Linked DNA regions of Homo sapiens. The protein of the gene in region 1 interacts with the protein of each later gene in a pairwise test. Each region holds a gene or a part of one and is shown in the gene's direction. Other genes may lie near its edges. The genes, in order: PTAFR, SPATA24, PLLP and PPM1J.

The links.
Region 2: the proteins of PTAFR (region 1) and SPATA24 interact in a two-hybrid assay, tested with the Homo sapiens proteins (one large-scale study listed by BioGRID and IntAct).
Region 3: the proteins of PTAFR (region 1) and PLLP interact in a two-hybrid assay, tested with the Homo sapiens proteins (one large-scale study listed by BioGRID and IntAct).
Region 4: the proteins of PTAFR (region 1) and PPM1J interact in a two-hybrid assay, tested with the Homo sapiens proteins (one large-scale study listed by BioGRID and IntAct).

Annotation. Positions count from the first base shown.
Region 1 is NC_000001.11:28,166,283-28,170,858, reverse strand, and holds part of PTAFR (platelet-activating factor receptor), read left to right. Parts: intron 1-4,576. UniProt on the Homo sapiens protein: Receptor for platelet activating factor, a chemotactic phospholipid mediator that possesses potent inflammatory, smooth-muscle contractile and hypotensive activity.
Region 2 is NC_000005.10:139,395,733-139,399,220, reverse strand, and holds the end of SPATA24 (spermatogenesis-associated protein 24), read left to right. Parts: intron 1-1,794; coding exon of another isoform or gene 1,795-1,868; exon of another isoform or gene 1,869-1,943; intron 1,944-2,077; coding exon 2,078-2,180; intron 2,181-2,265; coding exon of another isoform or gene 2,266-2,291; coding exon 2,292-2,421; downstream 2,422-3,488. UniProt on the Homo sapiens protein: Binds DNA with high affinity but does not bind to TATA boxes. Synergises with GMNN and TBP in activation of TATA box-containing promoters and with GMNN and TBPL1 in activation of the NF1 TATA-less promoter.
Region 3 is NC_000016.10:57,278,173-57,281,672, reverse strand, and holds part of PLLP (plasmolipin), read left to right. Parts: intron 1-3,500. UniProt on the Homo sapiens protein: Main component of the myelin sheath that plays an important role in myelin membrane biogenesis and myelination. Plays an essential function in apical endocytosis. Regulates epithelial development through the regulation of apical endocytosis.
Region 4 is NC_000001.11:112,709,498-112,712,548, reverse strand, and holds the end of PPM1J (protein phosphatase 1J), read left to right. Parts: intron 1-91; coding exon 92-204; intron 205-493; coding exon 494-578; intron 579-1,164; coding exon 1,165-1,283; intron 1,284-1,477; coding exon 1,478-1,541; intron 1,542-1,697; coding exon 1,698-1,805; intron 1,806-1,937; coding exon 1,938-2,089; intron 2,090-2,238; coding exon 2,239-2,386; 3' UTR 2,387-2,551; downstream 2,552-3,051.

The DNA of each region.
Region 1 (4,576 bases):
CCAGCTAATTTTTTGTATTTTTAGTAGAGACAGGGTTTTACCGTGTTAGCCAGGATGGTCTCGATCTCCTGATCTTGTGATCCGCCCGCCTTGGCCTCCCAAAGTGCTGGGATTACAGGCGTGAGCCACCGCGCCGGGCCCTTATTTTTATTTTTAAGAGATAGGGTCTTGCTCTGTTGCCCAGGCTGGAGTGCAGTGGTATGATCATAGCTTACTGTAATGGACCCAAGTGATCCTGCAGCCTCAGCCTCCATAGTAGCTAGGACTGCAGGCATGTGCCACCATGCCTGGCTAATTTTTTTTTTAATTTTTAATTTTGTAGAGACAAAATTTGGTTATGTTGCTCAGGCTGGTCTTAAACTCCTGACCTCAAGCAATTCTCTTACCTCAGCCTCTCAAAGTGCTGGCATTATAGATGTGGGCCACCTTTCCAGCCTCAATGTTGATGCTATTCCCATTTTATAGATGAGGAAAGTGGGACTGGCCCCAGCGAATCTAAGAGCTGGGAGTGGCTAGAGCTGGGGTGTGAGAGTTTGGAAGCGAAGAGTGAGGGACACTGTGACTGTGTGTGTACAGAGGCTCACCTGTCTATTTAGTCAGTATTTCTCATGTGTTTGCTATGTAGGAGGCCCTGTGATGGGTATTGGTGATATGCCAGAAGCCTTGGCCCTTGGGAATTCCCAGTCCAAAAGGAGAGAGAAATCAACAGCTATGATAATGCAATGTGATAGATTGTTATGGGAACTTGAGGTGGAATTTCCAACTCTGTCTGGGGTAGGGAAGTAAGAGTAACAATAGCCAACATTCAATGAGCTCTCACTGTAGACCAGACCAGGCATCTTCTTTTTTTTTTTTTTTTGAGATGGAGTCTCGCTCTGTCGCCCAGACTCCAGTGCAATGGCGTCATCTTGGCTCACTGCAATCTCTGCCTCCTGGGTTCAAGTGATTCCCCTGCCTCGGCCTCCCGAGTAGCTGGGATTACAGGCATGCACCACCATGCCTGGTTAATTTTTGTATTTTTAGTAGAGATAGGGTTTCACCATGTTGGCTAGGCTGGTCTCGAACTCCTTACCTCAAGTGATCTGCCCGCCTTGGCCTCCCAAAGTGCTGGGATTACAGGTATGAGCCACTGCGCCCAGCCCTGATAAGGACTTTATACACATTATTTCATTGACTCTTCACACCACTCTGGAGAGGTATGTGCCTGGGTATTATCAGCTCCATTTTCAGTGAGGGACCTGAGAATCAGAGGGAGGACATGCTTGGCTGTGGTTCTGTGGTAGGAAGTGAGAGAGGTAAGATCTGAACCCAGGTTTGTCTGACTACAGAGTCTGACTCCAGAGTCTGTGCTCTTAACCACTGTTCTCTAAATACTGTACATCCTTTATTTCGCTTGATGAAAGAGATGTGGTTTACAAATGAGGCCCGAAGGCGGCAAGCAGTTTTACCAAAGGTTGCATAGCTTTTAAGTCATAAACTGAGTCATATGACTCTAACTTAAAAATACACAATGTACTTTCAAATTTGTCGTCTCTTAGGCCCATTGATTTTTTTTTTTTTTTTACTGTGGTGAAAACCGTAACATAAATTTACTCTCTTAGCATGCATTTTGAAAAATTTATTTTATAGAGACTGGGGTGTTGCTATGTTGTCCAGACTGGTCTCAAACTCCTGGGCTCAAGTGATCCACTCATTTTGGCCTCCCAAAGTGCTGGAATTACAGGCCACGTAATTCCAGCCATGTGCCTGGTCCCTGTTAACATTTTTAAAGTGTATAGTTCAGTCATGCTACCTATATTCACATTGTTGTATAATAGATCTCTAGAATGTTTTCTTTTCTTTTCTTTTCTTTTTTTAAATCCTGCGAGTGCCAATAGAATGTTTTCAACTTGGCTGGGCGCAGTGGCTCATGCTGGTAATCCCAGCACTTTGGGAGGTCAATGAGGGTGGATCGCTTGAGGTCAGGAGTTCGAGACTATCCTGGTCAACATGTTGAAACCCCGTCTCTACCAAAAATACAAAATTAGCTGGGTGTGGTGGTGCATGCCTGTAATCCCAGCTACTCGGGAGGCTGAGGCAGGAGAATCGCTTGAACCCAGGAGGCGGAGGTTGTGGTGAACCAATATCATGCCACAGCACTCCAGCCTGGGTGACAGAGTGAGACTTCATTTCAAACAAACAAACAAAAAAGAATGTTTTCATCTTGCATGACTGAAACTCTACATCTGTTGAACATCTCTCTATTTTCCCCTCCTCCCAGCCCCTGGCAACCACCGTTCTACTTTTGGTTCTATGCGTTTGATTACTTTAAATGTCTCATATAATAAGTGGAATCATATAGTATTTGTCTTCCTGTGAGCTGGCTTATTTCACTTAGCAGAAATGTCTTCAAGATTCATCCATGTTGTAACATGTGTCAGAATTTTCTTCCTTTGTAAGGCTGAGTAATATTCCATTGTATGTATATACCACATTTTGCTTATCCATTCATCTGTCCATGGACATGTTAGGTGTTTCCACGCTTGATGATTGTGAATAATGTTGCTATGAATATGAATGTGCAAATGTCTTTTCAAGATCCTGTTTTCTGCCGGGCGCGGTGGCTCACGCCTGTAATCCCAGCACTTTGGGTGGCCGAGGAGGGCGGATCACGAGGTCAGCAGATTGAGACCATCCTGGCTAACACGGTGAAACCCCTTCTCTACTAAAAATACAAAAAAAAAAAAAAAAAAATTAGCCGGGTGTGGTGGCGGGCACCTGTAGTCCCAGCTACTCGGGAGACTGAGGCGGGAGAATGGCGTGAACCCGGGAGGCGGAGCTTGCAGCGAGCCGAGATTGCGCCACTGCACTCCAGCCTGCGCTACAGAGCGAGACTCCATCTCAAAAAAAAAAAAAAAAAAAAAAAAAAGATCTGGTTTTCAGTTGGGCGTGGTGGTTCATCCCTGTAATCCCAGCACTTTGAGAGGCCAAGGTGGGCGGATCACTTGAGGTCAGGCGTTAGAGACCAGCTTGGCCAACATGGCGAAACCTCGTCTCTACTAAACGTACAAAAATTAGCCGGGCGAGGTGGCGGGTGCCTGTAGTCCCAGCTACTAGGGAGGCTGAGAACCGCTTGAACGCGGGAGGCGGAGGTTGCAGTGAACCAAGATCGTGCCACTGCACTCCAGCCTGGGCGACAGAGTAAGGCTCCATCTCAAAAAAAAAAAAAAAAAAAAAAAAAAAAAATCCCGTTTTCAGTTCTTTTGAATATATAGTATACCCAGAGCGGAACTGTTGGGTCATATAATCATTCTAATTTTAGTTTTTTGAGGAGCTTCTATACTCTTTTCCATAGTGGCTGCACCGTTTTGGAATCCCACGAACACTATGCGAAAGTTCCAATTTCTCACATCCTTGCTGACACATTTCTGTTTTACTGATAGTGGCCATTCCAGTGGGTTTGAGGTGATATTGCATTATGGTTTCAATTTGCATTTCTCTGATGATCAGTGATATTGAGCCATCTTTTCACATGTTTATGGTCATTGGTATATCGTCTTTGGAGAAATGTCTATTCAGGTTCTTTGCCCATTTTTTAAATTGAATTTTTTGTTATTGTTGTTACTGAGTTGTAGGAGTTCTGCATATTAACCCCTTATCTGATATCTGGTTCCATCCGAAAGGTTGCCTTTTCTCCCATCCACAGGTTGCCTTTCCACTCTGCTGATTGTTTTCCTTTGCTTCATGGAGATTATTTAAAGTTTGCCAAAAAATAGTTTATTTGTGCTTTCGTTGCCTGTGCTTTTGGTGTCATATCCAGGAAATTATGACCCATTCCAATGTCATGAGGCTTTTTATTGTTTTTAATGTAAATAACTAATTAATTAATTTTTTTGTTGTTTAGAGACAGAGTCTCCCTCTGTTGCCTAGGCTGGAGTACAGTGGCATGATCATAGCTCACTTCAGCCTTGAGCTCCTGGGCTCAAGGTATCCTCCTGTCTCAGCCTCTGAATAGCTGAGACTACAGGTGCATGCCATCGTGCTCAGCTAATTTTTTAAATTTTGTGTAGAAACAAGATCTTGCTACGTTGCCCAGGCTGATCCCAAACTCCTGGCTTCAAGCAATCCTCCTACCTAGGCCTCTCAAAGTTCTGGGATTACAGGCATGAGCCACTGTATCTGGCCTGTTGTGAAGCTTTTTTTTTTTTTGAGATGGAGTCTTGCTCTGTTTCCCAGGCTGGAGTGCAATGGCACGATCTTGGCTCACTGCAACCTCCGCCTCCCTGGTCCAAGTGATTCTCGTGCCTCAGCCTCCCGAGTAGCTGGGATTACAGGCACCCGCCATCATGCCTGGCTACTTTTTGTATTTTTGTAGAGACGGGATTTCACCATGTTGGCCAGGCTGGTCTTCAACTCCTGACCTCAGGTGATCTGCCCACCTTAGCCCCACAAAGTGCTGGGATTACAGGCGTGAACCACCACACCCCGCCAAGAAGCTTTTATCCTATGTTTTCTTTGAGGAGTTTTATAGTTTCAGGTCTTATGTTTAGGTCTTTAATCCATTTTAAGTTAATTTTTGTATAATATATGGTGTAAG
Region 2 (3,488 bases), on another chromosome or scaffold:
CTCAGCCTCCCAGGTAGCTGGGACTATAGGTGCCCGCCACCACACCTGGCTAATTTTTTGTATTTTTAGTAGAGACAAGGTTTCACCGTGTTAGCCAGGATGGTCTCCATCTCCTGACTTTGTGATCCACCCACCTTGGCCTCCCAAAGTGCTGGGATTACAGGCGTGAGCCACCACGCCTGGCCTTTTTTTTTTTTGAAGCGGAATCTCGCTCTGTCACCCAGGCTGAAGTGCAATGGCACGATCTCGGCTCACTGCAACCTCCGTCTCCTGGGTTCAAGCAATTCTTCTGCCACAGCCTCCAAAGTAGCTGGGATTACAGGCATGTGCCACCACACCCAGCTAATTTTTGTATTTTTAGTAGAGACGGGGTTTTACCATGTTGGCCAGGCTGGTCTCAAACTCCTGACCTCAGGTGATCCACCCGCCTTGGCCTCCCAAAGTGCTGGGATTACAGGCATGAGCCACTGTGCCTGGCCCCTTGTCCAACCTTTGAAGACAGTAGGATTTTCTTTCTGTAGGAATCAGAATTTTCCAAGGTGCCATGTGGGGCAGTTATGTAAATGAAGCACCCCCAGATCCCTACAGCCTCCTTGGATTTTGATCCAACACAGAAAAATTATCATTTATTTATTTATTTATTATTTAGAGACAGGGTCTTGCTCTGTCACCCAGGCTGGAGTGCAGGGGCACAGTCATAGCTCATTGCAGCCCCCAACTCCTGAGCTCAAGTGATCCTCTTGCCTCAGCAAGTAGCCAGGACTATAGGCATGTTCCAACACCATGCCCAGCTAGTTTTTTGTTTTTTTTTTTTTTAGTTTTGTAGAGGCGAGGTCTCACTATGTTGCCCAGACTGGTCTCTTACTCCTGGGCTCAAGCCATCCTCCTGCCTCAGAAAGTCATCTTTGCCTCAAATGTACGATTAATTTGGGGGTAGGCTTTGCCACCACTATCTCACTGGGTCCTCCCCAGACCACTGTGGGATAGGGCTGTCTCTTTCCCCATCTTTGAAATGAGGAAACAGGTCTGAAAATCGAGGCAACTCCCATCTTCTCCCACCACCCCTGAAGCCCTAGCACAAGGCTGGGCATCCAGCCAGCCCTCGGGAAGTTTGTTTGGACTGGGATGACTGAACTAGGTCTTTTTTCTGAGTCCTAAACCCCCAGGGACATCCCGTTCATTCGGTCTGCAAATATACTTTTTGTATACCTACTATGTGCCAGGTGCTGTTTTAGGCCTTAGGGATAAAGCCGTGAATAAAACAAAGATCCTTGTCCTTGTGGACCTTACATCCCAGCAGCGGAGAAGACAGATGAGTAAAGTATATGGTATGTTAGGTAAAAGTGTTAAGAAAAATAAAGCAGGATGTTGGGCATGGTGGCTCACGCCTGTAATCCCAGCATTTTGGGAGGCTGAGGTGGGTGGATCACCTGAGGTCAGAAGTTCGAGACCAGCCTGGCCAACATGGTGAAACCCCATCTCTACTAAAAATACAAAAATTAGCTGGGCGTGGTGGCAGGCGCCTGTAATCCCAGCTACTCGGGAGGCTGAGGCAGGAGAATTGCTTGAACTCAGGAGGTGGAGGTTGCAGTGAGCCAAGATCATGCCACTGCACTCCAGCCTGGCGACAGAGCAAGACTCAGTCTCAAATACAAAAAAAAAAAAAAGAGAAAGCAGGAAGAGGGAACAGGAAGTACTGGGAAATGTAATTTTTTGATGAGGGAGAGTTTCTCCAAGGAGGCAACATCTGTAAAGACCTGCAGGAGTTGAGGGCAGGCGCCATTCATCTTCCAGCCTTTGGTCAGGCCTGCCCACTTCTCTCCAAGGACCTTCTCCTGCCCTCATGTGGGTCCTCTGGTCCAGAATAGACTTGTGAAGTCATTGACAACAATCCTCAAACACTGCACTCCCCCAAGACTGCATAATAAACTCATTCATACTAAGGTATTAGCAGTTCTTCATGGAGAACTCTTGGGTGGGGAGCCAAGCTCTGAAAAGCCCCGTGAGGGAATGCCTTATCTCAGGAAGGAGCCCTGGGATGGGAACCACCCCTCCTCCCTGCCTCTCTCCCCCACAGAGATTGAGTCTCACATTATAAAGCAAGAAGATATACTTAATGGCAAAGAGAATGAGATTAAAGAGTTGCAGCAAGTTATCAGCCAGCAGAAACAGATCTTCAGGTGAGGGGTCTGGGCCCGGCTGGGGGTTGTTGATGACACTGGGGAGCCAGACCTCTGGCCCCTACCTACCCTTGGCTGTCCACAGCCCACCACCAGCCGGCTCCGTTGCAGGAATCACATGTCTGACTTCCGGATCCAGAAGCAGCAGGAGAGCTACATGGCCCAGGTGCTGGACCAGAAGCATAAGAAAGCCTCAGGGACACGTCAGGCCCGCAGCCACCAGCATCCCAGGGAAAAATAAAATGGCCGCCGCTTTCCTGTTCTCTGGCTGTAATCCCCAGCCTCTGCCTTCTCTGCTCTGGGAGTCCCCAGCCTCTAGCCCCTGCTACTTCCCTCCCTCTTGGATAGTGGTAGGGGTCCACAAGGTGGGGGCTTGTAGCCTAGGGGAGGAGCTGGGTCTTTGTTGTCTGGTAGGCACCACCGCTTCCTTTGGGTATTTAATCCCTTCCTATATAAACAGCCCTGGTTACCCAGTAATATTCCACCCCACTCCCAGTGTCCTGGTAAATTTAACTTCCCAACTTGACTACAGGGCCGGAAGCCCTGACCAGAAACTTCAAAGACAGTGGGTTCCAGAACCACAAGGAATTTGGGAAGTCAGTTTCCATCACATGACAATAATGTTATACCTGCAAATTGCATTTGCACCTGCTGACACCTCCCCCAAACGGGAGCTTCACAATGGGAGGAAGAGAAAAGACAATGCTGTGTGTGGTTTTAAGGTGGAGAAACAATCTGGGAAGGGACCTCAATTTGCACAAGTTGCACAGGCAGGGCTGGATGGGATGGAGCAGCAACATTTTTTCAGAAGCCATCACCGAGTGCCCCCTAGGTGATCATGGGGACACACCCAGGCAGAGGACCCACTTCAGGGGTCAGATTAGCCCAGTGTAGCCTGTCCTGGGTCGGTTTGAGGCCAAGTGCACAGGAGGGGGCAGTGCTCTTGCTCCAGGGCCAGCTGGGGCCTGAGTCATAGCAGGACCTTGAAGCCAGAAGTTTAAGGGCAAGTGGTGCCCACAGTTGTAAGACAATGACAGGTGGTGGTTGCCTCCCCACCAGCGCCTGTCCCCAGGGCAGGTCCTAAGGCTGTGGGGGCTGAAGTTAGGGCCTTGTGAATACCTGGGGGAGCACAGGGCTGTTCTGGCCGCAGGGGCCTTTGGAGCTGGGACCACAAGCTACTTCGAAGCTTCCTGTAGGACCCCACATCGGTATCCAGGGCCTGTTCTAGGTGCTGAGGCAGACTGAAAGCTAGAGCTGTCCACTCCAGCTCCTTCCAATAGGTCCCACCGAGGGCAGTGGGTCCAGCCA
Region 3 (3,500 bases), on another chromosome or scaffold:
CTGGCATGGTGGTGGGTGCCTGCAGTCCCAGCTACTCGGGAGGCTGAGGCGGGAGAATGGCGTGAACCCGGGAGGTGGAGCTTGCAGTGAGCCGAGATGGCGCCACGGCACTCCAGCCTGGGAGACAGAAAGAGACTCCGTCTCAAAAAAAAAAAGAAATAAAAAAAAAATCTGCTTGTTGGAGAAGCTGCATCCTGAGCTGTTTCTCTGGCAACAGGTAGTTCCACTGGGTCTGAAATGGGATATGTGGGGGTTAATCCAACAGGCACCACCATCTGCTGGGAAGCCATGGTAGCTCCCATCTATCAGGCCAGCACTAGGCTCAGGCCCTTTGCCAAGGCCTTTAGATCTTCTTAGTCGGCCCCATTTTAGGTGAGAAAACTGAGGCTCAGAGGCCAGTTCTTTGCCCAAGATCTCACAGCCCTCCTCCACAGGAGTGATTTTTCTGACTTTTCTGGCCTATGGTCTTAATGACCACGTGTGGCTTTGCTGCTACCTTCCCAGGATCTGTCATTATGGAGGGAGTGGTGGGGACCCTGGGCCCACAGCCTGCTTTCCAGGAGCTCTTGGTCAGTGAGAGAGGTGCCCAGAGGATGTGCTTCTCCCAGAGGGATCAGAGAAGGCTGCATGGAGCAGGAAATAAATGAGAAAATGGAAGCTAATTCTCCATCAAACCCTTCTGTTTCCCAGGATTTGATGAATGTTCCTGGTATGGTGGGAGGAAGGGGAGGTGGGTAGAAAGGCTCCCAGCTCCTGGAGAAGGAGATACACTTTTCATTCGGTATCAGAATGTGTCCTGAAGAACCAATCTCAGTATTCTTCACAGATGTCTGGTGGTGTTCATTGATTTATCACTATCGTTATTCCTTGTAGATTCAGAAAGAACACCAGATGGAATATGATATTAAACCACATAAGACAGAAGAGTTAAAGCGATGTATCTTTAAAAGCTGGTGGTGTGGAGGGGAGAATTGACTTGCAGCAAGTTTAAGGCTGTTGATTATTTGTTGAACTTCCTAGCAGCCTAGGCAAAAAGGGAAACATGAAGAATCTATGCAGATAGCGTCTAAAAAAGGAGGCAGGTCTTTGTTTTGTTTTGTTTTGTTTTCTCTTGCCAATGGATTCATGTCACAAGGCAGGCAAGTTTGATCTACAGATAACTCTTTTGGTTTTAAAAAAAAAAGGCATCAGTGCTACAGATTTTTGTGTAGCTCAGGTGGAAGAATGCAGAAGGCGTGGTTATTTGCTTATGGGGAGCTCCCAAAGCCTTTTTACAATAAGTATAAAGTAGTGCTGTTAGGTGCCCATCTCTCATTTTTTCAAGCCTCCCCAAGCCGTGGGGAGAAGGATGATCTTATCTGGATTTACTGATAAGTAAATAGGCTCCGAGAGGGTGAGGAACTTGTCCAAGGTCACACAGGATAGAGTGGCAAGCTTGGCTTTGCACTTCGATCTGGAAATCCAAAACCTGGCTCTAGCTATGCTTCCTCATCTTGTTTACTTTGGGGGTGGGAAGTTCTAGAGTGCTTTCTAGGGGGAAAAGGGGGACTGCAGGAAGGGAGACTCATCAGGGGCCAAGGCCATCAGGGAGGGCTTCCTGGCATAGGAAGGGAGAAGGAGGATCAGGACAGACCAGAGCTTGTACAGAGACCTGTCAGTCAGTAGGCGTCCTTGAGGCCCAGGATGTGGAAGCTGTGTGAATGCCCTGTGGCGGTAAGGCCATTTGGTTTGGTACCTTCTGTCCTTCCATTTTGCCCCACCTCCTGGGATTGGGGGTGGCCACACAATTCCCACTTTGCAGGTGAATAACAGATCAAAAGCCTCACCTAGCTAGGCAGGTGGCAGGGTGGCACATGCCTGTAGTTCCAGCTACTTGGGAGGCTGAGGTAGGAAGATTGCTTGAGCCTTGGAGTTTAAGGCTGCAGTAAGCCATGATCACGTCACTGCACTCTAGCCTGGGTGACAGAGTAAGACCCCTACTTTTTTTTTTTTTTCCTCGAGACAAGGTCTTGCTCTGTCACCCAGGCTGGACTATAGTAGTGTGATCACAGCTCACTGCAACCTCAACCTCCCAGGCTCAGACGATCCTCCCACTTCAGGCCTCCTGAGTATCTGGGACGACAGGTACATGCCACAATGCCTGGCTAAGTTTTTATATTTTTTGTAAAGATGGGATTTCATCATGTTACCCAGACTGGTCTCGAACTCCTGGGCTCCAGCAATCCACCTGCCTTGGCCTCCCAAAGTGCTGAGATTACAGGTGTGAGCCACTGTACCCAGTCCTCTACTCTTAACAAAAAAAAAAAAAAAGGAAGAAGAAGAAGAGAAGCCTTCCCTAGATCTCCATGATCCATGGGGTGGCATGGAGAGTGCTGATGGGAACACAGGCCTGGACGCTGAGAGCCTTGGGTTCAAATCCTGGCTCTGTCCCTTTCTGGCTGCATGATCCTGGGGGAGTTCCCAAATTTCCCTGAGCCTCACTTCCTTGTCTGTCAGATGGTGATGGCAGGATCTAGATCATGCCTGCAAAGAGCTAGCCTAGCACTATATGTGGGAATGAAGGACAGTTTGGATTCACAGGGTTATAGGATCCGAGGGTTCTTATGCAAGCATAAGAGGTGCCTTTGCAGCATCTCCAACATGAACTTGCATGCTTCCAGAGACAGGGAGCTCAGTTCTTCTTAAGGCTGCCTGCTCCATCCTTGGGCACTTGGGAGTGTTGGAAAGTTCTTCCTTATGGTGATACCGGCTCTGTCTCCGGCCCCAGGAGGCAGACCAGCTCCTCTGCAGATGAAGGGCAGGGCAGGGACTGAAAGCCAACTCTGGTCTCCAGGAAGGGGCTACCTAGATGAGATTGTTGGAGTCCGAGTGAGGTGTGAGCAGGGCTTGGTCACACTCGGATTGCAATGTCTGAGACTCCCGGGGCTTCCCTTAGCACTGAGATTTGTGGGTGGTTCAGTCTTTTTAGTACAGCATTCCAGGCCCCGCATGCCCAATATCTTCATCCAACCCAGCTCCACTGCACAGAGCAATAAATGCCTTGTATTGTTAGTTCCCCCCACACTCCCCACTTACTGCAAGGGGGGGAGTATTGAGTGTTTGGGAATTAATGTGTAATTACATTATGAATATATGAATACATTCTCCTCACAAAATAAAAAAACCTGTACAGATTACACTAAAGCTGTAGTTGGATTACCCACCTCTGTCCCTAAGGGGACAACTATTTGGGGTGTTTCTAGTCTTTTTTCCTGTGCACTTTTGAAAACATTGATAGTTTTATTCTGTATCCTTTGTTCAGCAAGTTGCTTTTCTCATACTTGGTGCATCTGAGAGCTCTTCTTGTGCTCTGTCATCCAGGCTGGAGTGCAGCGGCGTAATCTCAGCTCACTGCAACCTCCGCCTCCCGGGTTCACGCCATTCTCCTGCCTCAGCCTCCCGAATAGCTGGGACTACAGGTGCCTGCCACTACACCCAACTCATTATTGTATTTTTAGTAG
Region 4 (3,051 bases), about 85 Mb from region 1:
TTGATTTCTACGGGTGGAGGGGGTAGGGGGAGGGTGACTGTGTGCTGGAACCTCTCCTTCTACCCACCTCTGACCCTTCCTTATGTGGCAGGATGAGCAGATGGCCCGGGAGCGGCGTGGCCACCAAGTGGAGGGGGGCTGCTGTGCACTGGTTGTGATCTACCTGCTAGGCAAGGTGTACGTGGCCAATGCAGGCGATAGCAGGTATGGGGGAGGGGGCTCCAAGGTGGCGACAGAGGGCCACACTCTCTGAGTTGGGGGAATACAGGAGAGTAAGGTGGCAGGGGTTAAAAATCAAGATTGGAGGGAGTCAAGAGGGGTGACAGACATAAGGAGTGGCCTGAAATATCCATTGGGTGGGGTCAGGGGCAGATATGGGGGTCTGGGTAAGAGATCTGAAAGGTCATTATGGAGAGGGCCTGGTCTTTCTGGAATTTTTCATGAGTGGGTCTGAAGAGAACCAGGTCCCAATTCCTTTTCTTTCTTTGGGCAGGGCCATCATTGTCCGGAATGGTGAAATCATTCCAATGTCCCGGGAGTTTACCCCGGAGACTGAGCGCCAGCGTCTTCAGCTGCTTGTAAGTAGGAACCAAATTCCCTACCCCCATTCTTTGTCGGGTCTTGTGCCTCCCTGCACCCCATGGCCCTGAGAACTCTCACACCCCCACCACAGGCACAGAAAGCACTTTACTGGGAAGGCCGCTGTGTGGACTATGGAGTGCGGGGCTGAGCCGGTGGGAGGTTGCAGCAGGGAGGCTGCAGCACTGGGCTGGTCCAGTGCTCCCACTGTGGCCCCAGCTGAGGCAGGAAGTAGAGACTGAGGTGGGGGAAGGAAACAGCAAAGGCCCCTGAAAGGCAGTCCGGCTTAGTGCCTAAACGCATGTGGCTGTGGAGCTGGAAGCCCGGGATGCATCCTGGTCTGAGTGCTTTGCTAATTGTGTGACCGGAGCAGTTCCCTCCCTTAACCTCTCTGTGCATCAATAGTTCCTGCCTTAAGGGCTGTTGTGAGGAGTAAATGAGTTAATATTTGCTAATATTAGAATAACGTGTGGCACATGGTAAACTCTGTTTAAGGGTCTGCTGTAGTCAACGTCATCTGTGTGCCACCGTGTGCTGTGAGCATAATGCCCCCTGGCTCTCTGTTCTGATCATCCCCAACTCCAGGGCTTCCTGAAACCAGAGCTGCTAGGCAGTGAATTCACCCACCTTGAGTTCCCCCGCAGAGTTCTGCCCAAGGAGCTGGGGCAGAGGATGTTGTACCGGGACCAGAACATGACCGGCTGGTAACACTTCCCTCAGAGCTGGGGCCCGTTCCCATGGCAACACAACCAGTCCCTCGCCCGCAGCAAGGTGGAAGCTGGAGGCTGGGAGTTGGGAGGATGTGGCCCTTCTAAGGGGTTTGTGTGAGGGTATGCAGCTCCTAGGGGAGAGGGGCTTTGATGCCTGGGTGATGCCTCCTCTACTCCCCCCTCCCCAGGGCCTACAAAAAGATCGAGCTGGAGGATCTCAGGTTTCCTCTGGTCTGTGGGGAGGGCAAAAAGGTAAACTCCATGGTAGAGGTGGGAGAGGGGAGGAGGACCTATCACAACTTGTCTAGGGAGGTGGAGGTTCTACCTGAGGGTAGGGGTGGAAGGGATCTTTGGTTTCAGAGAATCTAGCAGAGGACTACAGTGGCACTCCCTCCTCATTTCTTTCAGGCTCGGGTGATGGCCACCATTGGGGTGACCCGAGGCTTGGGAGACCACAGCCTTAAGGTCTGCAGTTCCACCCTGCCCATCAAGCCCTTTCTCTCCTGCTTCCCTGAGGTGAGCCCCTTAAACCACACCTTGCCTTCTCTGGGAGTCTCAGGCCAGCTTTCATCTGCAGTCCCTTTATCTCCAAGCTCCCTGTCCAGCAAACCCCACACCTCAATCCTCTCTGCCCTTTTCTCCCACCAGGTACGAGTGTATGACCTGACACAATATGAGCACTGCCCAGATGATGTGCTAGTCCTGGGAACAGATGGCCTGTGGGATGTCACTACTGACTGTGAGGTAGCTGCCACTGTGGACAGGGTGCTGTCGGCCTATGAGCCTAATGACCACAGCAGGTAGGGGCTGCATGGCATGGTGGTAAGGGGATGGCATTGGTGAAAGAAGGGTCAAAGGGAAGCAATGCTTGGGACCCCACATGTGGGCCTGTGTATCTGTCTTCCCACATACATGTTGGTACATGAATGTGCATGTGTGCTCCTGGCAGGTATACAGCTCTGGCCCAAGCTCTGGTCCTGGGGGCCCGGGGTACCCCCCGAGACCGTGGCTGGCGTCTCCCCAACAACAAGCTGGGTTCCGGGGATGACATCTCTGTCTTCGTCATCCCCCTGGGAGGGCCAGGCAGTTACTCCTGAGGGGCTGAACACCATCCCTCCCACTAGCCTCTCCATACTTACTCCTCTCACAGCCCAAATTCTGAAGTTGTCTCCCTGACCCTTCTTTAGTGGCAACTTAACTGAAGAAGGGATGTCCGCTATATCCAAAATTACAGCTATTGGCAAATAAACGAGATGGATAAAGGTGTGTGTCTGTATTTGCTTTGACTAGAAACTGAAAGATAAGAAGAAAGCTCTGTGGGGTGGTGGAAAGAGCACCAGAACAGTTCTAGAAATGTGGTGTCCCCCAGGTTCTTTATTCCACCCCCACTCTTTCCACTCCACGCATTTGCTGTGAGTGTCATCATCCACTTCTGTGGCCTCACCCATCTGCCCAGACCCTTCCTGAGCTTTAGACCCACACATACCAGTCATCTCCCGAATGTCTCCTGGATAGCCTGCTGGCACTTCAATTCAAATACCTCAAACTAAATTCACGACTGCCCTCCATAGCATGTTCCTTCTCCTGGTATATCCCCTCAATGGGCACCAGCTCTGCTGCTCCAGTTAGAAATCTTGGAGTTGGTCACCCTTGGCTTTCATTTCTTTCTCATCAAGGTAATTGATCACTAAGTATTGTTGACTATAGACCTTTAAAAGTATTTCTCTACTTATCTCCATCTCTCCCCGCCTTCAGTCACCAC